Linked DNA regions of Homo sapiens: region 1 is linked to region 2. Evidence: fine-mapped expression QTL. A gene starts in region 2. The other region holds a variant in brackets. All regions are shown on one strand. Distances are from middle to middle.

Region 1 (10,817 bases), 63 kb before region 2:
GACCATACCTTAAGGAAGGAAGTCCCACCAGTGTTTGTTGCATTTGAAATTCCTTTAAAAATGCTGGGTTAATACTTGCATCTCTGCTGATATTATTTTTTATACGAATGAACTGATTAGGTTTATTCCTGCATTCTTTTAATAGGATGCGGAAAGCATTTGCATTGTATGTTAAGTAGCCAAGAGCAGAGGAACAAGCTGCACGAACCTAAATGAAGAAACAATTCTTTCTTAACCAGTGGGCTTTGTTCTTAAAATATCTTAATGTTCTAATTAGCTATTTCATAGGAAAGTCTCTGTAAGGGAGGGAGCAAGTGTAAGCAAATATGTATGCAAACAAATGGCAGTGTATAGACGGAAGCTTAACTGCCATATTTTTACAGAGAGCTGTCAACTGCCATTGATTTCTAGTGGTTGTTCTCAGTCTTAACTGCATTTTAGAACCACCTGGAGTGTTTAAAAAAAAAAAAGCCCACCAACTAAATCAGAATCCTTTCAGGGGTGTGTGTGTGTGTGTGTGTGTGTGTGTGTGTGTGTGTGTGTGTGTGTGTGTGTGTGTGTGTGTGTGTGTGTGTGTCAGGTAATTCTAGTGTGTGTGTGTGTGTGTGTGTGTGTGTCAGGTAATTCTAATGTGTGTGTGTGTGTGTGTCAGGTAATTCTAATGTGCCACCAAAGAAAGAACTTGAGTTTGAACTAAGGTAGTGGATGCAACCCTGACAATGCATTAGCATCACCCATATAACTTTGACAATTATGCCTGGGTTCCATCCCTAGAAACTCTTATTTAATTATTTTGTTTATCATTCTCAAAGGAGTAGGAACAGACACTTTGGAGAATAGCTAAGTGGTACACATAGGAAAGCTGAACTCTTGGTAACAGAAATCTTAGAGAAAGCAACTTATTTATTTATTTATTACTTTAAAAAAATTTTTTTTTAACATTCAGACGTTACAAGAGCAACTCACTTTTCCACTGGCAAAAACAGAAAGAAGCACAAGTGTCAGGCCACAGGACTCTAGAAAAAATAGTTCTTTGAAGAAAATACCCTCTGTCTATGACCCATAGATTGGTCATATGATTAATTAAAGTATGTTCCTGGCCAGTTGTAGGGAATATGATAGTAGCATAAAAAGTTTCATAGAATGAACATATTGGTCTTTATGTTGGCATCCGGTTGCTCTGTATGCTCATATGTCTTCTAAACCTTGAACCCTGGACCTGTAGTTCAGCTGCTGGGAACTTGTTCGAAATGCAAATTCTAGGGCCCACCTCAAATGTATTGGCTCAGAAACTCTAGGAATGGGGCCAAGCAATATAACAGGCCCTCCAGGTGATTCTGATATACCCTAAAGGTGGAGTAACACTGCTTTAGACCTTAGTGGAAGAGAGTAGGGGAACACTCAGAGGCAAGCCACTGCTGTGACCAGCACGGCCTCTTTCACACACCCTTACATCTAACCCTGCTTGACACATAAGGAAAGCTATCCTATGAATTCCATTTTCATTCATTTCAAATCATAGAAATAACTTAGATCAGAGTCACCGGTTTTCATTAGATACTTAGTAAACAATTATAAGTTTCTTTGTCATCAACGTACTTATAGATTGACTCTTAATTCCAGGATTAAGATGACTTATTTTGTAGGGTTTTGTTTTTGTTTTTTAAATCAGAAACTAATTTGAACAGGTAGTTCTTTTTAAATCTTTAATTGTAGTCGTTTTATACTGCTTTTGTGATTAAAATCCTAATTTTAAGTCTTAGGGTTAAAACAAATGTATATTTTTATAGGAATTAAAATTGTGGATGGCAGATATGTATGACTAATTAGTATTAGAAAAGTCATGTAATTTTGAGTTAGTAACAAGAACTATATTATATATATAACACAGTCATGTAATTTTGAGTTAGTAATAAGAATTATATTATATCTATAACACAGTCAATCAGTGGAAAAATTAGTCCACAGAGGGAGAGGTAAATTATATTTTTAGCATATTTAATTTTAGAATTAGTTTTTGCTTGTTTTTACCTCTTCTATTCCCGAGTACAAATGATAGCAGAGCCGTTGGATTGTTCCTAATGTGGTAAATGCTTCTGGGATACCAGCTCTAGAATGAGCCAGGCTTGCTATTAAATTCCCTATAAATTAAACAAGAAAAATGCTTGTGTTATTTAATTGATATAAACTTATAATACTTTCATTAATTGCACATAGCACTGAAAAAAGTTTGTGTCACAAGACATCTCTGTCAATGAAGCAGCACTGAGAAAAAGCATGCATATGTAAATATAGAATAAACTCCCCAAAATTACAGTTTGGTTTTCTGTCACAAATAGTGTAAATTAAATAGGTTTATGTAAGGGTGAAAAATTTGAAAATTAGAGGTTTTCTTTCTCCCATATCTTCAGAATATATTTTGTTTTGAAGTTTTTAGGGTTTTAAAAATAACTATGAACATAATGATTTAATTATCATAAGAAAATTTAGGCCGGGCGTGGTGGCCCACACCTGTAATTCCAGCCCTTTGGGAGACCGAGGTGGGCAGATCACCTGACTTCGGGAGTTCGTGACCAGCCTGACCAACATGGAGAAACCCCATCTCTACTAAAAATACAAAAATTAGCCGGGCGTGGTGGTACATGCCTGTAATCCCAGCTACTCGGGAGGCTGAGGCAGGAGAATCGCTTGTACCTGGGAGGCAGAGGTTGCAGTGAGCAGAGATCGTGCCATTGCACTACAGCCTGGGCAACAAGAGCGAAACTCCGTCTCAAAAAAAAAAAATTAATATGTCCTTTTTGCGGTTGAAATGGCTTTGAGTTAAGCCTTATTAATACTTTAAAATCAATCAATGTATTGCTTATTGAGGTTTAAAAATCACTGAAGTTTTTACATAAAAGTAAATGTTTTCAGATTTAAAATAATAAAGTGTCCCAATAATTAAATGTGCAGCTAGCAACTGAATATTATTTCATTTATATTTGTTTGAAGATAAAAATGTATTTTCATATTTCTGTGTGGAGTATGTGGATACTTTATTGAGATATGACGTGAGTTTTTGTTCTCCTTATATTTTTGTCTGGCCTCTATTATAAGCCAAGAAATTCCTTGTGTTTATTGCCTCCGAATGGGGAAAATTGGTTGTATCATCTAAAGCAAAAATTGTCTAAAGGTAAGCTCTATTTAAAGTTAAAAAGACCCTTTAAAGATGGGAAGTTAGAAATGGAAACAGACCAAGGGAGCAGCTAAGAAAGAGAACTAAAGTTTATAGTTCTCAAAGGAGTAGAAGGAGGAACTCCGAGTAGAGAATAGCTAAGTGGTATAAATAGGAAAACTGAATTCTTGGTAACAGAAATCAGTTTCCTAAAAACTTCTGTGCCTTTGGAGCATCTTCTGGAAACCATGTCAACTTGACACCAAGCACATCAGTTATTTTACACTATACCTGAGGCCTGAATATCAAGCTTTGCCTGAGATACCCTGGACATGCATATGACTGGTTGTGGAGTGCAGAGAAAGTCCAGTAATTTCTGAGATTCATTTCTCCTCATCCTGGAGGAATTAATTTAATATTTGAAAGCCAATGTAATATGGCATTTCTTTCCTATAAGAGTTTGTGGAGGCCAGGTGTGGTGGCTCATACCTGTAATCCCAGCACTTTGAGAGGCCGAGGCGGGCGGATCATGAGGTCAAGAGATCGAGACCATCCTGGCCAACATGGTGAAACCCCATCTCTACTAAAAATACAAAAACTAGCTGGCCTTGGTGGTGCATGCTTGTAGTCCCAGCTACTCGGGAGGCTGAGGCAGGAGAATCGCTTGAACCTGGGAGGCGGAGGTTACAGTGAGCTAAGATCGCACCACTGCACTCCAGCCTGGCAATAGAGTGAGACTCCATCTCAAAAAAAAAAAAAACTGTGGAGTCTAAACCCACTACAGTTGTTTTTCAGAGTCACAGAATTACTATAACATTGAATTAATAATGTTATTTAGATTAAAACATATTTAATAACTTCTTTAAACTTTTTTTCTAGCTAGTTTCCATCAGAAAGTTTTCATTGCTTCATTTTTCCTTCCTTGCCATGCACATATACTTCATAAACATGTAATTCTATGGCATCAAGTAAAGTTTCCTTTAGTGATACATTTTAATTAAAAAACAAATACTTATTTGTTTATATTGGTAGTAGTCACTGCATATTACTCATTCTGACCCTGCCTTATGTTACTTTAAGAGTGGCATAACAAGTCAATTAAATATTACTGATCACCTATTATGTGTGAGCTGTTGGGTTAGGTCTGCAGTAGACACAGTTATACAATAGCAATAAATGTGTTGAGAACGCTATGGGACCATCTTGCTTTGCTTTGTTGCACAGCGATGTAAAGAACTTTTCAGTGTTAGCAAAATGTGCACAACTGGACAAAAGGAAACCAGACAGAGGTACATCTGTGTAAATCTGCCACCACTATTATAAATCAGTTTTTTTATTTTGCTGTTTGTAGGTCATAGGTGAATTCTCATTTATATCTTGGAAAAAAAAGTTAAGGGTTTGAAAAAGTAATTAGGAAAGCAAAAAGTCTGTATTCAGAGTTACTCAGCTTCTGTTTGGGGTACAGAGTAGACACCCATTGTTTCGTGTAGACTTGCTGTGGAGTTCCATGTAGATATAAACATAAGTTCGTTCTTTAAACTTGTGGCAGTGTATCAGGCGTATTATTTTATTATTATTCAGATTACAATAAACTGTTTTTGAAAATAGTTTTATGTGGCTAAAATTAACTTCTAGTCATTTCTTACCTGTCAAGACAATAGTAGAAGTCTGAACTGAATACAGACTATCAACTAAAATAGTAACACCTCTTGCAGACAAAGTAATATGGTCCATATCTCTAATGACTTTAGCCAGTACAACAATCTGAAAACAGAAAAGAAGCAGAGAGTCTTTGAACATTTTCTACTCAGCTTCTCTAATTACACGTTTGTCATTTTTTATGTTTTTTTTTTAATTCTTTTGATACTTCTTAAAGGGAGTGTTTAGAGGATTCAATAGAAGCAGCATGTGGTGGTGGGGAGAGTTAGAGTATTTGTCCCTGTCTGGTCATAGCAGTGATCATAGGGGGTACTATTATTCTTCCTACAATGTTTGCAACTTTTGCACCCTTTCAATATGGGTTCATAGAAATTACTTCTCTTAAAGGGCACAGGATAGAAAATGAAGAGAGAGAATAAGACTTCCCAGATACATACAGTTGTTACTAGGTTGAAGGATCAGTGTGATCAACTAAAGATTTGCAGTTAGAAAACCTGTCTTGGATGCTAACATGTTTTTCTACCTATTTACTTTTAATATGGGGGTGATGAAAATAATACTACCTGATTGTCAACCTTACAGGCTTGTTATAAACATCAGATGAGGTATAAAGGCATAAGCAAGTGTCTTATAACTTGTAAAATTCTGTATTAATGAAGAAATCCTCATAGATAATGGAGTTTTTATGAGGTAGAAGGGGCTTATGTGCAAAGTACTAAGTTTTTACAAATAAGTAAACGTTTTTCTGGGCCTCCAAATTGTTGTAATTTTCAAGTTTTCACAAAATGACATATTTATTAATTTGAGGTGTTAATCTCAATTTTATACCTGAAATGCTGCCATTGCCTTCTCAGTTTCAACTGTTGATTCAAGAAAACGTTCAAAAATAGATATGGTCATTATTCCACTTTCCAATATTAAGTATTGTTGAAAGCGATTATTGAAGGCAAAAAGTGTTAATGCATAGCCTGCTCTTAAGCAAATATCCTAAAAATAGGAGAAACAGGCATTATGGTGAACTTCATTTATCATGTTACTCAACATAATAGACTTTAAGTTCTTGCTCATTAAAATATATTGCATTCTTATCACTGGGAGTAAAATATGACATTACTAGGGAAAAGAGATAATAGTTACTCTAGAATGTTGTAACTTTCAACATTTCAAAGTAGAGTTGATAAATCAAAACTACCCTTGTATATAACATGTTATCTATTGCATTCCATACATTGTTGGGTATTCCATATCAATCTCTTAAATTCATTTGTAAAATTCCATTGTACTATATTTTAAGGAAGAATAGGAGAAAAATAATGTATTCTGAAGAATCACATTTTAACATTCTGAGGCTGGGCAAACAGCAAAAGCTAGTTTCTTCTGTAGAATTAGTCTGCTTGCCAGAGATATATAAGTATGGCAGACCTTCCAGAAAGATTCAAAAGATAAAATCTTATTACTAAATCTTATTTTTAATATTAAAAATAATTCAATATATTGTATTATTAGTATGTTATTTGAACAATGTATTACAACAGAAAGAACTCATTCATCTTGGTGAATTTTCTTTTCTTTTTTTTTCTTTTTCTTTTTTTTTTTGAGACAAAGTCTCCCTCTGTCACCCAGGCTAGAGTGCAGTGGCGTGATCTTGGCTCACTGCAATTTCCACCTCCCAGGCTCAAGCAATGCTCCCACTTCAGCCTCCCAAGTAGCTAAGACCAAAGGCGTGTGCCACCACACCTGGCTAATTTTCTGTATTTTTTGTAGAGACAGGGTTTTGCTATGTTGCCCAGGCTGGTCTTGAACTCCTGAGCTCAAGGTGTCTGCTCGCCTTGGCCTCCCAAAGTGCTGGGATTACAGACATGAACCACCACACCTGGCCCTGAATTTTCTTCTGCCACTGTTAATCATAATATTAAAATGCTGCATGTACATACTGAAATATTTATAGATAAAATTATATGATGCTTGAAATTTGCATCAAAAATAATTTAGTAGAAATGAGTAGATGTATAGATGAAATAAGATTGGCCATGAGATGATGACTGCTGAAGCTGGGTGGGAACATTTAGGTTCATTATGCTACCCTGTCATTTTATATATATTTGAAATTTTCCATAATAAAAATCACATACACACACACACACACACACACACACACACACACA[C/A]AAAACCCAGTCACCTAAATAGGCAAAAAGAAAGGTATTAGGTACAGTCAAAGGCTTGAGAAACTAGGTCTCATTCATAGTCAAAGCGTGGATTAACAGACAGCAAAATAGAACCTAGAGCCAAGTAGGAAAGAGTGGCAATGGGAAATGAACCAAAGGGGCATGCTTTGTGTATCAAGGTCAGATAGAGCGAAGTGAGAGAAATATGCTAAGACTTGACTGATTTCCATTTCTTTTCCATGTAGGGTTCACTCCTGCGGTATCACTGTGGAAGTCTACAGTAAATAGTTTAGATTATAAAGTGGCTATTAATGTTTCAAAATGAATCCCATAGTTTGACTGCTCCCACCATGCCAGGTAGTATCAGATACAGGACAAGAACCAAGTTGGCTATTCCCAGTTCAGAAGGCTAAAAATTAATGCTTGAGGAAAGACATGTGTTTCCATACTTTTCTTCCCCAATGTCAACTGTCTTAAACTCTTTACTTCATATATATTTTCATTTACCTATCTACCAGGGTGGTTATACCCACTGGTTACTTATTGTTACTTTATACCCACTGATTTATAAATGGGAAAAGAGTGCCTGTTAATTATGCTCACTAACCTCTCTTCAAAAGTATATTCATAATTAATTAGCCCACATATTTGAGTTAATTAAAAAGAGTAGAATAACAGTAACTAAATTAATGCAACTAATTTTATGTGGCTTGTGAAAATCAATCTCAATGGTCCATTTCATATATTATTCTAGTTTGGTAGCATGAAAATAGTTAAATTATAATTTAAAAACAACACATAACCTATTGCATCTCCATGTAGACAGTATCAATGTGGCTAGGAGTTACAAGAACCTGGGTTCCTGACTTAATTTTTATTGCATTCCTGTCATTATCCATAAGATAGCTATTCATTCAGTGACATATTTAATGTTGCTGAACATCCCTCCCTCCCCTCTAACTTCTACAACACACCTGTGTAATCTGAAGTCTCCCACTATAGGTTTAATGAAGGATAGTTGTTCAGTACTGTCTCTAAAGCCCTAAGAGCACTAATGTGCCTCTGCAGGGCAGGTAGTTTGAGGCAAAATATAGTACAAGAAACCCTGGAGGACTTTTAACTTGCCTTGTGATGAGTGTTAGAATTAAAAATTTCAGCCAAGGCCGGATAAATCCTTTGGTTAAACCTTCTAGTTCTCTAAGATTCCCTACCATTTGTAGAACTGATGCACAAGAATAAATCTATTATAAGCCAAATGCAGGGTCCAGAGAGTGAAGCAGGTGGTAACAAACTGGGAAGGAAGGCAGAATACTTGAGAGTGGAATGTGTAACAAAAGGGAGAAGAAGGGTGCACATGAGGAGTAAGGTAATGGGAGTAAAAGCTAGAAGGAACAGAGTAGAGGGGCAAAAGGTGGCTTAGAGAGTCAGGTAGACATTCATTTAGTCTCCTCACCCTATTAGTTTCCACATATATATATATTTTATATATATATTTTTTTTTACTCTACTGTAAATATATATATATATATATTCTCTTTTTTGAGATGGAGTCTAGCTCTGTCACCCAGGCTGGAGTGCAGTGATGCAATCTCGGCTCACTGCAATCTTCACCTCCCAGGTTCAAGTGATTTTCCTGCCTCAGCCTCCCAAGTAGCTAGGACTACAGGCATGTGCCACCACGCCCGGCCAATTTTTATCTCTTTAGTAGAGATGGGGTTTCACCATATTGGCAAGGCTGGTCTCGAACTCCTGATCTCAAGCGATCTGCCCACCTCGACCTCCCAAAATATTTCCCATATTTTTATAGCAGCACTTCTCTTTTGTGTACCACAGTAGAATAAAATTTTGTATTAAAAAAATAACATGACTTAATTCCCACCCACCTCCTGACCCTCCTTGATCCCTCTAAAACCTTACAGAACTGAGAGAAACGTCGCTGGCAATTTTCTTCCTGGTTGTGAAATGCCCTGTAGAAAATAGCTCTCATTTCCTTAGGGTAGTGCTGTTGAAAGTGTGGCCCGTGGACCAGTGACAGTCCACAAAATCATTAACAGTGGGATAACAAAACTGAGAATAAACATTGAAAAGAAACAAATCTTCTTTATAGTTGAATACCAACTAATAAACGTAGAAGGAAGAAGGGAATTTTTTTAATTGCCCTTAGGCAAATGTTACATTTATTATTGTTGCATCAATGGATGCTAAGATTGGTGAGCAAAAGTGTGATGCAAGACAAAATATTTGCATAATCTCAAAGTGTCTCACCTTAAGATACTTATTAACTACAAAAGGAAAAACAGCGAAGAACTATGGCAGACCCCATTTTAACCGAGTAATCAAAATTAAGATTACCAGTAAAATACATCAACGTTATATACCTCATGCTATGATGTACTGGGAAGGTGAGTGAAGAAGACCACATCACTTCTGTGATATTCTTGCCAAAAGGTGTAACTTCAATTTAATTAGGGGAAAACATCAAGGTCAAATTGAGGGATATTCTATAAAATAACTGGCCTGAATTCATCAAAAATGTCAAAATCATGAAAGACATGAAATCATGAAAAACAAAGAAGGGCTGAGCTTCACAAACTGGAGGCTAAAGAGACAAGACATTTAGATGTAATGTGAGACCCCGATTAGATTCTGGAACAAAAGTAGACATTGAAAAAAATAAAAATAATTTTTTAAATTAAATAAAAAAAACAAAAAAGGGACATTGCTGAGAAAACTGGCAAAATTTAAATAAGGCGTGCAAATTAGTTAATAGTATTGTATCAATGTTAATGTTCTAGTTGACATTTGGGAAAACTAGATGAAGGATATACCAGAATTTTGGAAAGTCTAAGATTATTTCAAAATTTTTAAAGTTAAAAAAAATTATCCTTCCATAATAGATTGCTGGGAAAAAGCTATTTCTTCATCATAAATAGTTTGAGAAGCACCCCTTTAGCATATTGGATAAGTGAATGACTGAGGGCTGAAAGGGCATAAAATTATTGTAAAGGTTTGATTTGGGACATAAGAGATTTGTTTTTTGACTCATCACCAAACATTAAAATTACTGCATTTCAACGATGAAGTGGGACAACTCAGAAAAATATGGAGCTGTATTATTACATCATTACAAACTAATGACCTACAAAGAGATCTTTTACATGTCTTTTCTTAAACAATACATTGAATATTGCCATGAAGAAGACTTGATAATTTGAAGATGTGGTATAAAAACCATTTTTTTCAAAATGAACCTCAATATTTTGTAAAGGTATTACCTTTTCTGTTGAGTGAAGAAGATAAAGGACATCAGCATATTCAAATCCTTCATTTTCATGTAAGTCTTTCTGTAACACATCATTCCCTAGGACAATGCATGCCAAGGAAAATGCCACTTCAACCTAAACATGTGGTTTTCAGAAATTACTTTTCAATTATGCTTTATGAAATTACACATTTCATTGTGCAGGCATTTATATAGAATACATTGTGGAAAGATACTATAAAATCTGCTAAAATATAATCCATTGATTCCAGTTATCTTACTAGCGAAAGAACTGCACTTACAACTCCCTCATAATTTTTAATAGCTGAGAAAATATCCTTTCTGTGTTCAGGGACCAACCACAGAGCTCCATTTGAGGGCACTGGAGAAAGGAACAAGGGCGAGCAGAGCATGTAAGGAGGTATTATCCTAAGTACATAGTTGTATCCCTTCCATATTAAAAAAAAGTTCTTTTAATTTTTTGACATGGATTAAAAAGCTATTTTGAACTGCTTGTTAACTACTGACCATTGAGTTGTAAGGCTTTAATGCAGCACCTTTTTTTTTTTTTTTTTTT
Region 2 (16,172 bases):
ATGCTCCCTCCTTTTCTATTCACTTTTCCTGTCCCTCACTCCTGTTCCTTGGAATCATTTCTCAAAAACTAACTTGACTCACGTCCTTGTTTCTGATGCAATTTGGAGTGTAACCTAGGCTAAAACATCTTGCTATTGTATCCTGTCCTCTGACCTGATGCTTCTTTAATCATGTAGCATAAAAGCCCTGTAGCCCAATGGTTCAGGTCCCTTTCTTAGAGTCTGACCATTGGCCCTGTAGGATTTCACAGTGGTGCTCCAGGTGTGGTGCATGATGGGGAAACCTGTGCCTATTCCTGCTACTGCCACCGTGAGATTCCCCCTATAAACTACTTCAGTAGGTCTAGTATGTATGCTGGTGGTCATTTACCACTGCTTGCACCACACATTGTTGAAGTTTCTGAAGCAGACACCCAATGTGCAGTGGAGAGAGAAAAAAATATTTCTACTAGGTGTAATGCTCATCTTTTTTTCTTTTTTTTTTCCTAAAAGATGGGGGTCTCACTATGTTTCCCAGGCTGCAGAGTGGTGGTTATTCACAGGTGCAAACATAATACACTACAGCCTCAAACTCTTGGCCTCAAGTAATTCTCCTGCCTCAGCCTCCTGAGTAGCTGGGAATAAAGATACATTCCACCATGCATGGTTTTGATGCTCATCTTTGATTGGCCAGGAGCCAACAGTATTAAGCACTCTATTGTAAACACACCCAGCACTATCCCCAGGCACATGATAGTAGAGTGACTGGATTTGTTAAGGTTCCCAGCCTCATTTAAGAACAATTTTTAAAAGGTTTGAGGCAGAGAGCAGTCAGAATGCTGTTGCAGTGGAAAAGGGTGTTCTGTACTACAGTGTTGCAGTAGAGATAAGCCAAAGTAGATGATTTTGAGAGATATTTTAAAAGTAGAATCACAAAACTCAAGACATAAGTTTCATATCAGGAAAGCACTGATATTTAGCTAATATGCAACAATAACACCACATTGTTAAAATACTGAACCCTCAATTGGCAAACTGAATTGCTGCAGCCCCAAGCTCATTGAATACCTCCCTCCCCAGGGATCACCTGAAAAGCTCCATGATCCAGAAAAGGGTAAATATGACAAGCAGGAGGTCTCTGAGACCCTGCTCCAGCATTATGGCTGACGTCCATTCTGATTGCTCAGTGCCAATACTGTGCTGGTGGTTAAGTGTTTTGAGTATCAACCCTGAAAATGTAGGTGTAGAAAGCAGACAGCATTAGTCCTTTGGTGCTCTCTGTTTCCACCTACAACTTGATTAGAATGTTCCTATGTGTCTCTGATCCCCTTACCAGGTGCACCATTGCAAGGGAATCCTCATAGAGGGTGGCAACCTCAGATATGACACACAGATGGGTGAAATAGACCAGATCCTGGGCCATGAAGTGGCTTGATGTAACTAACTTTGTCATCAAGTAAGCAAGAGCCCTCTTCCCTTAGTTACACAACAGGACATGTGCTCCTTCCTGCCATGATCAGGTCTCTACTGGTGCTCTAACTGGATGATCCAAAGGCTCTCGTGGCTTTAACATGTGGATGATTAATCAATATGTATCTAACCTTTATCACTTTCTAGAATTTGACTTCTATACTGAAAGTTTCCATCTAGATATCTGGATCTAAAAAGAGCTTGTTGTTTCTTTACCAGTTTGGCATATGCCCATTCAGAATGATGGCTCATCAGTCCCACGTCCTCTCAAATGAGAGCCTCAGGTAAATTTGTAAAAAGGGAAACAAAAGTAAACACAATTTCGTCAGAATGTCAAGGCTCTACCGCTGTTGGAAACTACCAAGCACTCTTGCTGATCCTTAACCTCCGTGGACCTCAGATCTTCACAAAGCTCTTGGCATCACCTTGATCCAGATAAATTACCTTTAAATTTAAAAAATGGCTTAACATTCTCCAAGATAGATCATATGATAGGTCACAAAACAAGTCTCAATTAATTTAAGAAAATCAAAATTATATCAAGTATCCTCTCAGACCACAGTGGAATAAACTGGAAATTAACTCCAAAAGGAACCCGCAAAACTATATAAACACACGGAAATGAAATAATCTGCTCCAGAATGATCTTTGGGTCAACAATGAAATCAAGATGGAAATTTAAAAATCTTTGAACCAAACGATAATAGTGATATCAAAACCTCTGGGATTACAGCAAAAGTGGAGCTAAGAGGAAAGTTCATAGCAGTAAATGCCTACATTAAAAAGTCTGAAAGAACACAAATAGACAATCTAAGGTCACACCTCAAGGAACTAGAGAAACAGGAACAAACCAAACCCAAACCAAGCAGAAGAAAAGAAATAACAAAGATTAGAGCAGAACTAAATGAAATTGAAAGAAGAAAACAATGTGAAAGATAAATGAAACAAAAAGCTGGTTTTTTGAAAAGATAAAATTGATTCACCATTAACTAGATTAACCAAGAAAAGAGAGAGAAGATCCAAATAAGCTCAACTAGAAATGAAACAGGAGTCATTATAACCGATACCACAAAATACAAAAGATCATTCAAGGTTACTATAAACACCTTTATGTGCACAAACTAGAAAATCTAGAGGAGATGGATAAATTCCTGGAAATATACAACCCTCCTAGATTAAATAGGAAGAAACAGAAACTCTGAACAGACCAATAACAAGTAGAGAGCTTGAAACAATAAAAAATTGCCAACAACAAAAAAGTCCAGGACCAGATGGATTCACAGCTGCATTCTATCAGACATTCAAAGAAGAACTGGTATCAGTCTTACTGAAACTATTCCAAAAGATAAAGAGGGAATTCTCCCTACATTATTCTATGAAGCCAGTATCACCCTAATATCCAAACCAGGAAAGGACATAACAAAAAAAGAAAACTACAGACCAATATCCATGATGAACATGGATGCAAAAATCCTCAAGAAAATACTAACGGAATCTGACAGCATATCAGAAAGATAATACGCCATGATCAAGTGGGTTTCGTGCCAGGGATGAAGGGATGGTTTAACATATGCAAGTCAATATATGTGATACATCATACAGACAGAATCAAAAACAAAAATCATCTCAATAGATGCAGAAAAAGCATTTGACAAAATCCAGCATTGCTTTATGATTAAAACCCTCAACGAAATGGCCATAGAAGGGACATACCTTAAGGTAATAAAAGTCCTCTATAACAAACCCACAGCCAACATTATACTGAACAGGAAAACACTGAAAGCACTTCCCCTAAGAACTGGAACAAGACAAGGATACCCACTCTCACCACTTCTATTCAACATAGTACTGGAAGTCCTAGCCAGAGGAATCAGACAAGAGAAATAAATAACAGACATCCAATTTGGTAAAGAGGAAGTCAAACTGTGGCTTTTTGCCAATGATAAGATCATATGCCTAGAAAACCCTAAGGATTCATCTAAAAACCTCTTAGATGCCATAAAGGAATTTAGTAAAGTTTCAGCATACAAAATCAATGAACACAAATCAGTAGCACTGCTATACACCAACAACAAACAAGATGAGACTCAAATCAAGAACTCAATCCCTTTTACAACAGCTGCAAAAAACAAAATTAAATAAAGTTAAATAAAATAACATAACATAAAATAAAATACTTAGGAATATACCTAATCAAGGAGGTGAATAATTTTTACAAGGAAAACTACAAAACACTGCTGAAAGAAATCATTGATGACACAAACAAATGAAAACACATCCCATGCTCATGGATGGGTAGAATCAATATTGTGAAAATGACCATACTGCCAAAAGCAATCTACAGATTCAATGCAATTCTCATAGAAATACTATCATCATTCCTCACAGAACTAGAAAAAATAATCTTAAATGTCATATAGAACCAAAATGAGCCCACATAGCTAAAGCAAGACTAAGCAAAAAGAACAAATCTGGAGGCATCACATTATCTGACTTCAAACTATACTACAAGGCTATAGTTAACAAAACAGCATGGTACTGGTATAAAAATAGGCACAGAGACCAATGGAACAGAATAGAGAACGCGGAAATAAAACCAAGTACTTATGGGCAACTGATCTTTGACAAAGCAAACACAAATGTAAAGTGGGGAAAGGGCACCCTTATTCAACAAATGGTGCTGGGATAATTGGCAAGCCACATGAAACTGGATCCTCATCTCTCACCTTATATAAAAATCAACTCGAGATGGATCGAGAACTAAATCTAAGACCAGAAACCATAAAAATTGTAGAAGATAACTCGGACAAACCCTTCTAGACATTGGCTTAGGCAAACAGTTCATGACCAAGAACCCAAAAGCAAATGCAACAAAAACAAACATAAATAGATGTGACCTAATTAAACTAAAAAGCTTCTAAACAGCAAAAGAAACAATCAGTAAACAGACAACCCACAGAGTAGGAGAAAATATTTGCAAATTATGCTTCCAACAAAGGACTAATATCCGGAATCTACCAGGAACTCAAACAAATTAGCAAGAAAAAAACAAACAATCCCATCAAAAAGTGGGCAAAAGCCATGAATAGACAATTTTCAAATGAAGATATACAAAAGGCCAACAAACATATGAAAAATGCTCAACATCACTAATTATCAGAGAAATGCAAATCAAACCACACTGAGATACCATCTTACTCCCGCAAGAATGGCCATAATTTAAAAATAAAAAAATAATACATGTCGGCATGGATGTGGTGAAAAGGGAATACTTACACTGCTGGTGGGATTGTAATGTAAACTAGCACAACCACTATGGAAAACAGTATAGAGATTCTTTAAAGAACTAAATGTAGAACTACCATTTGATCCAGCAATCCCACTACCAGGTATCTACCCAGAGGAAAAGAAGTCACTATATGAAAAAGACACTTGCACATGCATGTTTATAGCAGCACAATTCACAATTGCAAAAACATGGAACCAGTCTAAAGGCCCATCAACCAATGAGTAGATAAAGAATACGTGGTGGCCAGGTGCAGTGGCACATGTCTGTAATCCTAGCACTCTAGGAAGTCAAGATGGGATGATCATATGAGGCCAGGGGTTCGAGGCCAGCCTGTTCAACACAGGGAGACCCCATCTCCAAAAAAGAAAAAAAAAAAAAGAAAGAAAGAAAATATATATACCATGAAATACTACTCAGCCATAAAAATGAATTAAATAATGGCATTCACAGAAACATGGATGGGGTTGGAGACCATTATTCTAAGTGAAGTAACTCAGGAATGGCAAGCCAAATATTTTATGTTCTCCCTTATAAGTGGGAGCTAAGCTATGAGGACGCAAAGGCATAAGAATGATATAATGGACTTTGGGGATTCTAGAGGAAAGGTAGGAAGAAAATGAGGGATAAAAGACTACACATGGGGTACAGTGTACACTGCTCAGGTGATGGGTGCACCAAAATCTCAGAAATCACCACTAAAGAACTTAGCCATGTAACCAAAAACCACCTGTTCCCCCAAAAACTATCGAAATAAAATTTAAAAATTTTAAAAATGGCATTGAATAAAAATAATTAAGAAGTGGCCAGGTGCAGCGGCTCATGCCTGTAATCCTAGCACTTTGGGAGGCCTAGGTGGGTGAATGGCTTGAGCTCAGGGGTTCGTGACCACCCTGGGTGACGTAGTAAGACTCTGTTCCAAAAAAAAAAAAAAAAAATTTAAGAAGTGTTAAATTCTCTTACCTGCTGAACTAAACTCTGAAAAAATGTCTTTATTTGTTTGAGGTTTTCCATCAGGATCAATGTCCATGATGGCACGCCACAATTCAGAGAATCTAGCTCGTTTTTCTTTGGGCATATATATTCCATGCCATAGTGCTTTCAGCATGTAGTCAATATTGATCAGAATTTGCCCAATTCTGGTATCATAATAAGCTGGAGGTAATTGACAAGAAGAACTCTGATCATAATTAGCTTCTAAACTGATGGAAGGGATTTGATTTAGGCAATAAATTCCAATAGCCAACTCTCTTATCATTTGATGGACCTCTCTATAGTCTAAGAGGGCAGTAGGGTCCACGGGAGTCAGTAGGATTGCAGTGGAGAAGCCTACGTTATTCATTTGACTCATAATTCCACATGGGAGGTCTACTTGAGAGCGCACATCCTCTTTGGCAGACAACCAGCTAACTAGTGCAGTAGTTAGTAACTCTTGTATTTCACTCCGATCATATTTTTCAAAAAAAGCAGATGCATTTCTTTGTATTGCTAAATTTTCCAGGTAGGTGTCTTCATCCTGAACTTGCTCAAATCTAGGTAATCCTTTTTTGGGCAATCTTAACATTTCTAATTAAATCTAGTGTGTCCTTTTTGAAGCTTCTGCAATGAATAAGAAGGAAAAGATTATCAATAAAATCTGACATGCCAATGAAACTGGATTTGTCTAGAAATAAATCTGTACCTTTCACCTACATAAGATTAATTTTTCATGGTCAACCATTATAGTTTTCAAATTAAAAATAACTGCAGTATATGAAAACTGAAATTTGAATTAAAATAATTAAAATTATAAAACCTTTATCATTAACCATGTTCTGCTTTTCAAAGAATTCAAAAGACAAGAAGATGTATGTCAAAAAGAAACGTTAAGTTTATCTGTGAGAAGCTACTGTTACATACCTATTTTGTTGTTGGAGAGGCATTCTTTTGTATATGTTCGTGTTAGTCTGTTTGTGTTGCTATAAAGGAATACCTGAGACTGCATAATTTATAAAGAAAAGAGGTTTATTTGGCTCACAATTCTGCAGGCTGTACAAGCATGGCACCAGCATCTGCTCAGCTTCTTGTGAGACCAAGCTTACAATCATGGCGGAAGGGGAAGGGGAGCCAGTGTGTCACATGGTAAGAGACGGAACAATAGAGAGAAAGGGGAGGTGTCTACTCTTAAACAACCAGATCTTTCATGAGCTCAGAGGTAGAGTTCACTCTGCCAGGAAAGCACCAAGCCATTCATGAGGGATCCACCCCCATAATCCAAACACCTCGCACCAAGCCCTACCTCCAACATTGGGGAATCTATTTTAACATGAGATTTGGAGGGGATAAATATCCAAATCATATGGATATTTATTTTGTTTTCAGTTTTTTAAAGCAAGACTATACTGACCTGCATGAAAGAAAAGAAAAGGGTGGGGCGCAGTGGCTCATGCGTGTAATCCCAGCACTTTGGGAGGCCAAGTCGGGCAGATCAACTGATGTCAGGAGTTCGAGAACAGCCTGACAAACATGGAGAAACTCCGTCTCTACTAAAAATACAAAATTAGCCAAACGTGGTCGTACATGCCTGTAATCTCAGCTACTCGCGGGGCTTGAGACAGGAGGCTGAACCCAGGAGGCGGAGGTTGCGGTGGCCTGGGCAACAAGTGTGAAAAACACTGTTTCAAAAAAAGAAAAAAAAAAGAAAAAGAAAAGGAAAGAAGCATTTGCTTAACCTTCAATTTCTGTGCCAATGAATGCCTGTCTATTCCTGAAATAATAATAACCACAACTACTATTTATTGAGCCAGGTTCTTTACTATATAATGGTTTGATTTATTTCATCTGATTGGTCTCTATTATATAGTGGTTCTCAAAATTTAGCTTGTATCAAAATCACCTGGGGCTTGTTCAAATACAAATCGCTGAATCCCACCACTGAGTTTCTGATTCAATGAGCTGTAGTGGGGCCAGAAAATATGCGTTTTAGTAAAGTTACAGGAAATGCTGATAGTGCTGGTTTGGGCGCCACACCTGAGACCCCAGGTCAGTGAGTCAGACCTTGTTATGCCCACTTTATAGAGGCAAAAACGGAGACCAGGAGGTTGCAGGACAAGTCTGAGGTTTTACGCCTTTCAGAAACAGAACCCACGTCTGTCCAGTCAAGCCCGGGACCCACGTCCAAAAGCAGCTCGCGTCAGCCATGGGCACGGGAAAGGGGAAAAAACAAGGAAAGGGGAGGAACCTACTCTAGAATGGCTGTTTTCTTGTCCGGGAGAGGGACGCTGCGTCCGCGGCGTTCCCGTGGGGCTGAGAACAGTCGTCGCCGCCTCAGATGGCTTCTCGCGGGGCCTTGAATCCGCCCTCAGGGCCTCCGCAAGGGCGAGCGGGAGGCGCACCGGAAGGAACTGAGAGGAACTTTCAGGGCTTTTCGCCCCACCGTGGCGGCCCGGCCCTCCTCGCCTCGCCGGCCAACACTGCCGCCGCCCGGGCGCGGGTCGAAGCGGTTGGTCCTCCGGGCCCTGGGGTGGCTGGGCTGCTCCTCGGGCGGAGCCTGCGGGCGACTAGGCCTGGTGCGTCCCGCAGCAGCCGCAGCGCCCCCAGGCGGCGCCCGGCCCCTTGGCTGGCTCAGACCCCCCGCGTGCGCATCATCCCAAGCCCGCTTAGCGCTTAGTCCAGCGGCATGCCGTGGGCACTGTGCCGCCCTCACTATCTGCCTCTGCTAAAACACCGAAACAGAGTAGCAGAGGAGACAGCGCCGGGCGTTGAGGCAGTCCCGAGTTGGAATACCACCTCCATCATCATTCTTTCATTCAACAAGCATTTATGGAACACCTATTATGAGTCAGGCACCCAGCTACAAGCTGGAAACCCTAGAAAACAGGGCAGACACGAAACCCCAAGGAGCTTACAGTTGAACAGATCATCTCACAGCTATATTTAACAGTGTGCCAATATTAGATGGAATGACAGCACTCGAATGAAAGCTAACCTAGCCCAGGGCTAGGAAAGGCTGCCTAAGGAAGTGCCCTTTTCCCCTCCGAGCCTAGAAGATGGAAAAGAGCTACCCAAGCAAAGGACTGGACAAGTAGCTTTTCAGGAACAGGGAACAGCAGGAGAGAAAGAATTGAAGTGAGAACAAAGTTGAAATGGTTGAGAAACCGCAAAACCCTGCTTAGAGAACAAGAGAGATGTGGGCACAAACCGAGCTGCTGAGGTGCGCGATGGACAGATCATGCAGGCTGCTGAGTAATGATTTTGAATTTCATCCCAAAGGATTAGCCTACAGTAGTGGCAGTGGAGGTGGGGCTCAGGGACTGTGGACAGATTTGAAAAATAATGAGGTTGCCTGTTGGTGACAGATTGGGGATATGTTGAAAAAGAAGGTTGTGTCCAAGTCAGAACCACATTTCTGTCAGGAGCAACAGGATATCAGGGCAAGATTAAGAGTTCAGTTATGTACTAATTGACCTTGAAGTACCTGTGAGAGAAATTGAGATGTGAGATATGCTTTAGATAAACAGTTCTGGGCTAAGAATGGCAGTAGGGGTTAGATGTATAAATTTTGGCAGATTTATAGTAATTGAAGCCAGGAGTGGGGTTGAAATCACCAAGGGAGAGCGTGCAGAATGAGGAGTTGAGAACCAAGGATTAGAGACCTGAGAAATTTAACATTTAAACGTCAGGTAGAGAGAGTGAAGTCAGCAAAGAAGACAAAAAGAACAGCCAAGAAGGCAGGAGGAAAACCAAAATTGGTCACAGAAGCCAAAGAAGTGTGTGGAAAAAAAAAAAGGAATGGCCAACTTTATCGGATGCTGCTGCTCGGTCAGGGGAGATGAGAACAAACTTCCACTGAATGCAGCAGCTTGGAAGTTCTTGGTGACTGTTTGGGGCAGAATTTCTCTTCCAGTAACCATGTCATTATTTTAGCTACTATGGAAATAAATATTAATAAATTTATGAGGACTATTCCAGGGCTTTTTTTTTTACAAAGATTTGCATGTTTGCACTTAAGAAATATGAACCATATATGTACATTCTCCTACTTCAAGGATTGTTTCCCCCTGGGTAGCCAAATGGTTTGTTCCATGTGTCTCAAATCTTCGGAAAGAGATGCCTCATTTTTTAAAGGATCAACACAGAACTCCATCCCAGAGCTAATGGGATTGAATAGCAGAAGGTTGTAAATGCCCAGGCCCTCTTGGGGTTCACACACATGCATGTGTATCCTCTCTCTGTCTCTCTCAGTATTCTGGTGGAGCAGATGACCTGGAAATTCCTTATAAAAGTTTGACTGATTAATACATTTAAATCTCATAGAGTAGAGTAGCACCTGGAATATAGCATTATGTAAGTTATAGCTATTTTCAGTATTAAACTGTATTGGTGTTATAATATTCAATTCTAGGCCGTGGGGCAAACCTCTTAAGTTCATCTACTCCCAATATAAGCAATGTCAATTTAGTGCTCAGGCCCACACAGACACTTGAAGTTGTCTGCTTTCAGATTGAGGGATGAAAGCTATGTAGGCAGTATCTAAATTTTGGTTGAACATTGCATCTTCCAGGGAATAAATTCGGGGCATGTGAAAGCCTTTGCCAGGTTACTGACCTGTTTGTCCGGATCCTAAAATTTATTTGCTACTGTGATTAAAGAATCAAAGGGTGGCCAGATCCAGAAATGGTGTCGATCCTAATGGACAGATTTCACAGTGACACTGGTATGGCAGTTAACAGTTGAGTAATGTGGGTGGATGTCAGGTTGGAGTAAATAGACAAAAAGGTGGAGAGAGTGACTGTGGATGAGAGGCAAGACATAGTAAGTAGAGGAAGACGTAATTATTCTTGTCTTCAGGTTGAGTAGGCTGAGGAGGAGAAGGGGCTGTCTCGGGGTGGCAGAGGCAGAAAATCCACATATAAGTGGAACTGCACAGTTCAAATGTGTTGTTCAGGGGTCAACTGTAGTCTTTAAAAGTTACTGGGGTGGGAAAATGAGCTGCCTAAAAAGATGTAATAGAAGTAACAAGTACTGTTCAGGAGGATGAACCTCAAGCAAATTGTTTAGCTTCTTTAAACCTGTAGTTCTTTTATCCATGAAACAGGACCCTGTCTAAACCATGGTCCCTGAAGAGAGGGAACTGAATCATTTCTGGATGGAGTGATCAAAGAGAGTGAGTCTGGGAAAACAAACTGTTTCTCTTCACTCTCACACAACACTTCTGACACCAGATGTGTGGATTTTTTCCACCAGATGTGTGGAGAATTACCAAGCAATTCTCCAGCTCTCTGAATACCAGCTGGGTATCCTACAGTTTAATCCTGCCTCTATCTACCTGGAGTGAGTGTCAGATCCTTCCATTTAAGGGCTCAGTGCCATAAGGTGTCTCTGCTTTAGATGGCAATTTCAAGTCTGGATCTCTGGTACTTCTGATTGACCAGCTACATAAACTGGGGGTTTTCATGACCCCCTATTCAGGTTCGATAATTTGCTAGAATGGCTCACAGCACTCATAGAAATACTTATGTTTACTGGCTTATTATATAGGATACATCTCAGGCACAGCCAAATTGAAGAGATGCATAAGGCAAAGTATTAAAAAAAATTAAGATGAGAGGGAGCTTCCTTGTCCTCTCTGGGCATACCACACTCCCAGCACCTCCACATGTTCAGCAAACCAGAGGCTCATCAAATCTTGTTCAAGAGTTTTTATAAAGTTTAATAGACCTTAATTTTCAGCACCACTCTCCCTCCCAGAGGTTGGTGGGTGGGGATGAAATTCCAACTCTTCTAATCACTTGATTTTTATTTTTGTTTTTATTTTTATTTTTAGAGACAGGGTCTCACTGTCGCCCAGGCTGGAGTGCAGTGGTATGATCCTAGCCTCACTGCAGCTTCAACTTCCTGGGCTCAAGTGATCCTCCCACCTCAGACTCTTGAGTAGGGAGGCACATGCTTCCATGCCCAGCTAATTTTCTGTACTTTTTTTTTTTTTTTGGTAGAGATGAGGTTTCATCATGTTGCCCAGGCTGTTCTCAAACTCCTGGACTCAAGAGATCCCTCTGCCTTGGCCTCCCAAGCTGCAGGTGTTAAAGGCTATTTAGAGACCTCACCCTAAGTCAACGCATTAGCATAAACTCAGGTGTGATCAAAAGGGGCTTATTATGAACAACAAAAGATATTCCCTATCACTAAGGAAATTCCATGGTTTTAGAAGCTCTGTGACAGGAAAAAATGAAAATTCAACCAAATGAACTTTAAAACTACTATGTTATACAATAGTAAAGCAGCAGAGTATCTTACTTTTATATAATTATATAAAAACTTATTTTTATATTGTTACATTGTGAATCACATTACAATTTAGTCTCCTTTTCAATAGAAAGATTTTCTAAGGACATGATTTGGAGCCGTCCACATTTATCAGATGCCTTTTCATTAATTTTTTCCATTTTTGCAATTCTTGATCCAAACTGCATGGCCCGTTTGGGCAGAAGAGCAGAGGCTGTAAGACCAAGTTCCACAGCTGCAAGGCGTAAAAGTAATTTTTCACCAATTCCTCGGGGTAAAGTCAAGTTTGCTTTTTCCCAAATCGGCAGAGAATTTAGAAAGGAGACAACATTTTCATCCAGGAAAGGAAATCTAAAATAGACAGATAATATAACCACTATGTAAAAATAAAATCAACCTGCTTTGATTTATACACAGTTTTATAGCTAAAATTTAACCAAATTGTTTCACAACATGACTAATTTTAATACATATACTACAAAATAGTCTAAATCTCAATAAATAAATTAGGTTTATTGTGTCCAGAAATAATTTCAAATTGTTTTACAAGGTATCTTTGTGGAGGCCTTGAAAACAAACATGATTTTTTTTTTTTTTTTTTGCCTAGGTGAGCACTACCGCACCCAGCTAATCTTTGTATTTGTTGGTAGAGATGAGATTTCGCCACATTGCCCAGGCTGGTCTCGGACTCCTGAACTCAAGTGACCCACCTGCTTTGGCCTCCCAAAGTGCTGGGAATACAGGAGTGAGCCACCGCACCTAGCCTACGAGCATGATCTTAACTAACTATTCAATCTGTGTCTGATCTTTATCAGGTCTAAAGAAATGACACTTTAGGGATATGGAACCAATATAGAAGGGCTCCACAGTCCTGAACCTGCAAAACACTTATGGTAAAATTTTGTTACTCAAAATTGTTTAATTATACTTAAACCAATTAAATGGTGATAAATTACTGTAACAGAACAAAATATTAGATTTTTTTCCCCTAAATTCTGGGATGACCTAGAAACAAAATATTCGATTAAAAAAAAACTTTCTGCCCTTTTCCTTCCCCAATTTCTAGAAAATTATGTTCTTTTTCTGTTTAAAATACTTTAACACCCACCATCCCACATCTCAAAATGCAATACAGTTACACTAGTGTTTCCGTTTTATTACATCCTATTCTAGGTTAAGAGATTGGAAAGGACAAAGACATTTGTTATCTGGAATATTACATAAAAATGAATGAGTTGCAAAAGCAAATTTAACTAGAGAATCAAATCAACACACTACTGTTAATATGTATGTCAAGATACGTAATAAATTATTTAGATCTAGCCACTATATTTGTTATATCACAATTCTGTATTAGCTGCTTTAAACATTCTTCATATGCATTTTTATTTGAGCATAATATAATACTTTCATAAGTAAGGGCTTTTACTAGACAAATTCCTTTCTCTATGACCTAGCTGAAATAACAGACTGAATTTCTACCTCTCTCATGTCCTTCAAAGAGAAAACAGTTTAACAGTTTACGGACTTTATTATGGCATTAGTTATCAGTTTATAGTGAAATCTTGAAAATTATGACAGAATAATGACATAGTAGCTAAACTTTTACATGGGCTAGGACCAGAAACTTAAGAAAGACAACTGTGTAAAGGCAACTACAAGTCAGTGGAAAGAGGAAAAGACTGAAGTAGAGACAAGAAACAATGAAGTCAAAGAGAGAGAGAGAGAGAGGGAGAGAAAGTGTAGTATGTTTAATTCTCATGAAGCTTACTTGGACTTCCTATTCTTGGATGCTTGCACCCTTGTAATAAACTACCACTTAATCAATTAGCCTACTTGAATGAATTTTTGCTCTTTATAACTAAATGTCACATCTTCCTTTATCCTTACTTAATGTTTTAGAAAGTTTTATTCAAATACTGTACTTGTTCACTACCTTCAGAAATATGATATAGGTAAAAATAAACCTGAAAAGCAAGAATACATACATGAAAGTGCCTTGGTTTCTTTGAAGGTTTTAGGTAATCTGCAATATGTAACTAAATTGTGTTCAAAAAACGTGGCAGAGGAATATCCAGTGTAAGGACTACCTTCAAATCAGCATGGATCTGTACATACAGAAATGTCTATAGAGACAAAGCCAGTTTCTATAACACTGGAGAAGGCTTGCAGGTGGGGCTTATGCCCTTACTGGGAGGAAAGCAAACATTAAAAGCTGAACAAAACCCTCTAAATACCTTCTCTTAGTATTTCACTATCTCAGTTTTACTCTGTTTTTTTGTGGAAACAGAGTCTCGCACTGTCTCCCAGGCTGGAGTGCGGTGGCGCGATCTGGGCTCACTGCAACCTCCACCTCCTGGGTTCAGCCATTCTCAGCCTCCCGAGTAGCTGGAACTACAGGCATGCAGCACCATGATCAGCTAATTTTTTTGTATTTTTAGTAGAAGTGGGGTTTCATCATGTTTACCAGGCTGGTCTTGAACTCCTGTCCTCAGGTGATCCACCCGCCTTGGCCTCCCAAAGTGCTAGGAAGACAGGTGTGAGCCACCATGCCTGGCCTACTTTGACAGTATTTTTCACTATAGTCTTAAAAACAATCCTGTCATTATGTTACCTTTGAAAATTACTGAAAAGACATTTCTTAGAGAATGAGTTCTAGAAAATAAATGCTCTCCTGGCTCTTCCCAGCTCTGTTTCTGACTTTGTTTATAATACAAAGCCAAGCTATTATTGCTGCTCTTATTCATGTGAACAGTCTCCAAAGAGAAAACAAACTTTAAAGTCTCCATTTACACTCTGCTGTTTTTATAAAAATACCGTAAGAACACTCAAATGATTAGAATTACCTTGCTTCTTTTCCATGATCACCAATAACTCTGTCATCACGACCAAGATTTCTAGAAGAAATTCGACCCAGTTCCATCATTATTTCCTTATTCAATCCTTCCAGCCCATGCGACTGAAAGCGGACACGATGACGAGAATAACCTGCAAGTTGCTCATCTGCACCAATTCCAGTGAGAACTACCTATGAGGTTTAAAGAAATCCGTATAAAAATGTTATCAACTACACAGTAAAGAAAATAAGATAAATGCACCTAAAATATGCTATATTCTTACAATCAAAATGCTAAAAGCTTTAAGGGTCAAAAATAGGTCTCAGGAATTCTCAGGAGAAGAAACACTGTGTCATACCTTTGCATTGCTCTGATAGGATTTCACTCCTTCCTGGGCCACTAACCAACCAATTCCTCTAGAAGCAAACCAGACTGCACAGCCAATGCTATCATCCAAAACTGTATCCAATGGCCGAATTAAGTGACATATTCGAGTTCTTCTTAATTTCTGCAGTTCTTCCATAGAAACATTAATTTCAACAAAATTCCAAATTCGGGAAGGGCTAACAGCTTGTAGTTCCTTTAGTCCCGCCCTTCCTGTGATTCGATCTGGTACACTGACATGTTTATTAGGACTGTCAGCAGCAGCAGCAGCAACATCTTTAGAGAATTCTTCTGAAGGTATTTCACATTTATTTTTCTGTTTATTCCCTTCTCTGTTAAAGGTAGTTGGCATGGTCTTTTCTTCAGCTATGAAAGCTACATTAAGAAGATCAATTGGTTCATCTAAAGGAATATGACGGTCAGCAAGGGTTGCAATAACCATGGAATCAATGCCCCCAGAAAACAGGATTGCAACATTTGCTTTCCTATCACACGTTTTCAAAACTTCATTTGCTGTCAGGTTTTCATCCCTAGGTAAACACAAGACACGTTTCTTGACTGCTACACTCAGGACATCAATGAACTGCTGAATTACTTCCTTCATGTGTACATCAGTAAGAAAGACTTGAAGTATCTCTCTTGTAGGTGGCACATTGGAAATATTACTGCAATGAGTCTCCAATGCAGCTTGTGGCAACATCATATTTAAAGGAACAACAGGTTTTTCAAGATACAGTTTGGCTTCATTTGCTACCACTGATACAAATGCTGGTAAGTCTGCTGAAATTTGACTCAGGCTATTAACATTTTCTTCAATAATATTCTCCCTAGAAATATATTTCCAAGGATACAGTTGTAAAATAATGCATCCGGAAATGACAGTAGACTTAAGATCAATTCTGAAAAGTCCAGATGCTGGAACTTCTTGCCACTGATTTGCCAATCCAGATGTT

Alleles and levels. Alleles are on the strand shown, and positions count from the first base shown. SD is a standard deviation of normalised expression in the study named.
In carriers of allele C in region 1, the expression in monocytes of the gene that starts at base 8,120 in region 2 tends to be higher than with A alone (large effect, 1.4 SD a copy in BLUEPRINT).

The links. PIP is the estimated chance that this variant, and not a neighbour inherited with it, causes the effect.
Region 1: its variant is fine-mapped to the expression of ANKAR in monocytes (BLUEPRINT, PIP 0.95).

What each region holds. Positions count from the first base shown.
Region 1 is chr2:189,732,666-189,743,482 of GRCh38, reverse strand. ANKAR (ankyrin and armadillo repeat containing) reads right to left here. Exons shown (of 23, transcript NM_001378068.1): 17 at 10,254-10,376; 18 at 5,642-5,800; 19 at 4,801-4,918; 20 at 2,032-2,141; 21 at 9-208. Among named protein-coding and RNA genes, the nearest start is that of OSGEPL1-AS1, 25 kb to the left of the region's middle. The variant C/A (reference allele first, on the strand shown) is at 6,979.
Region 2 is chr2:189,666,618-189,682,789 of GRCh38, reverse strand. ANKAR (ankyrin and armadillo repeat containing) reads right to left here and starts at 8,120. Exons shown (of 23, transcript NM_001378068.1): 1 at 7,960-8,120; 2 at 5,699-6,334. The coding sequence starts at 6,299. ASNSD1 (asparagine synthetase domain containing 1) reads right to left here. Exons shown (of 6, transcript NM_019048.4): 4 at 15,194-16,172; 5 at 14,845-15,026; 6 at 11,959-12,349. The coding sequence ends at 12,064. LOC105373793 (a long non-coding RNA gene) reads left to right here and starts at 8,505. Exons shown (of 2, transcript XR_923692.3): 1 at 8,505-8,959; 2 at 9,397-9,670. RefSeq lists an enhancer at 7,735-7,994 and a silencer at 8,045-8,464.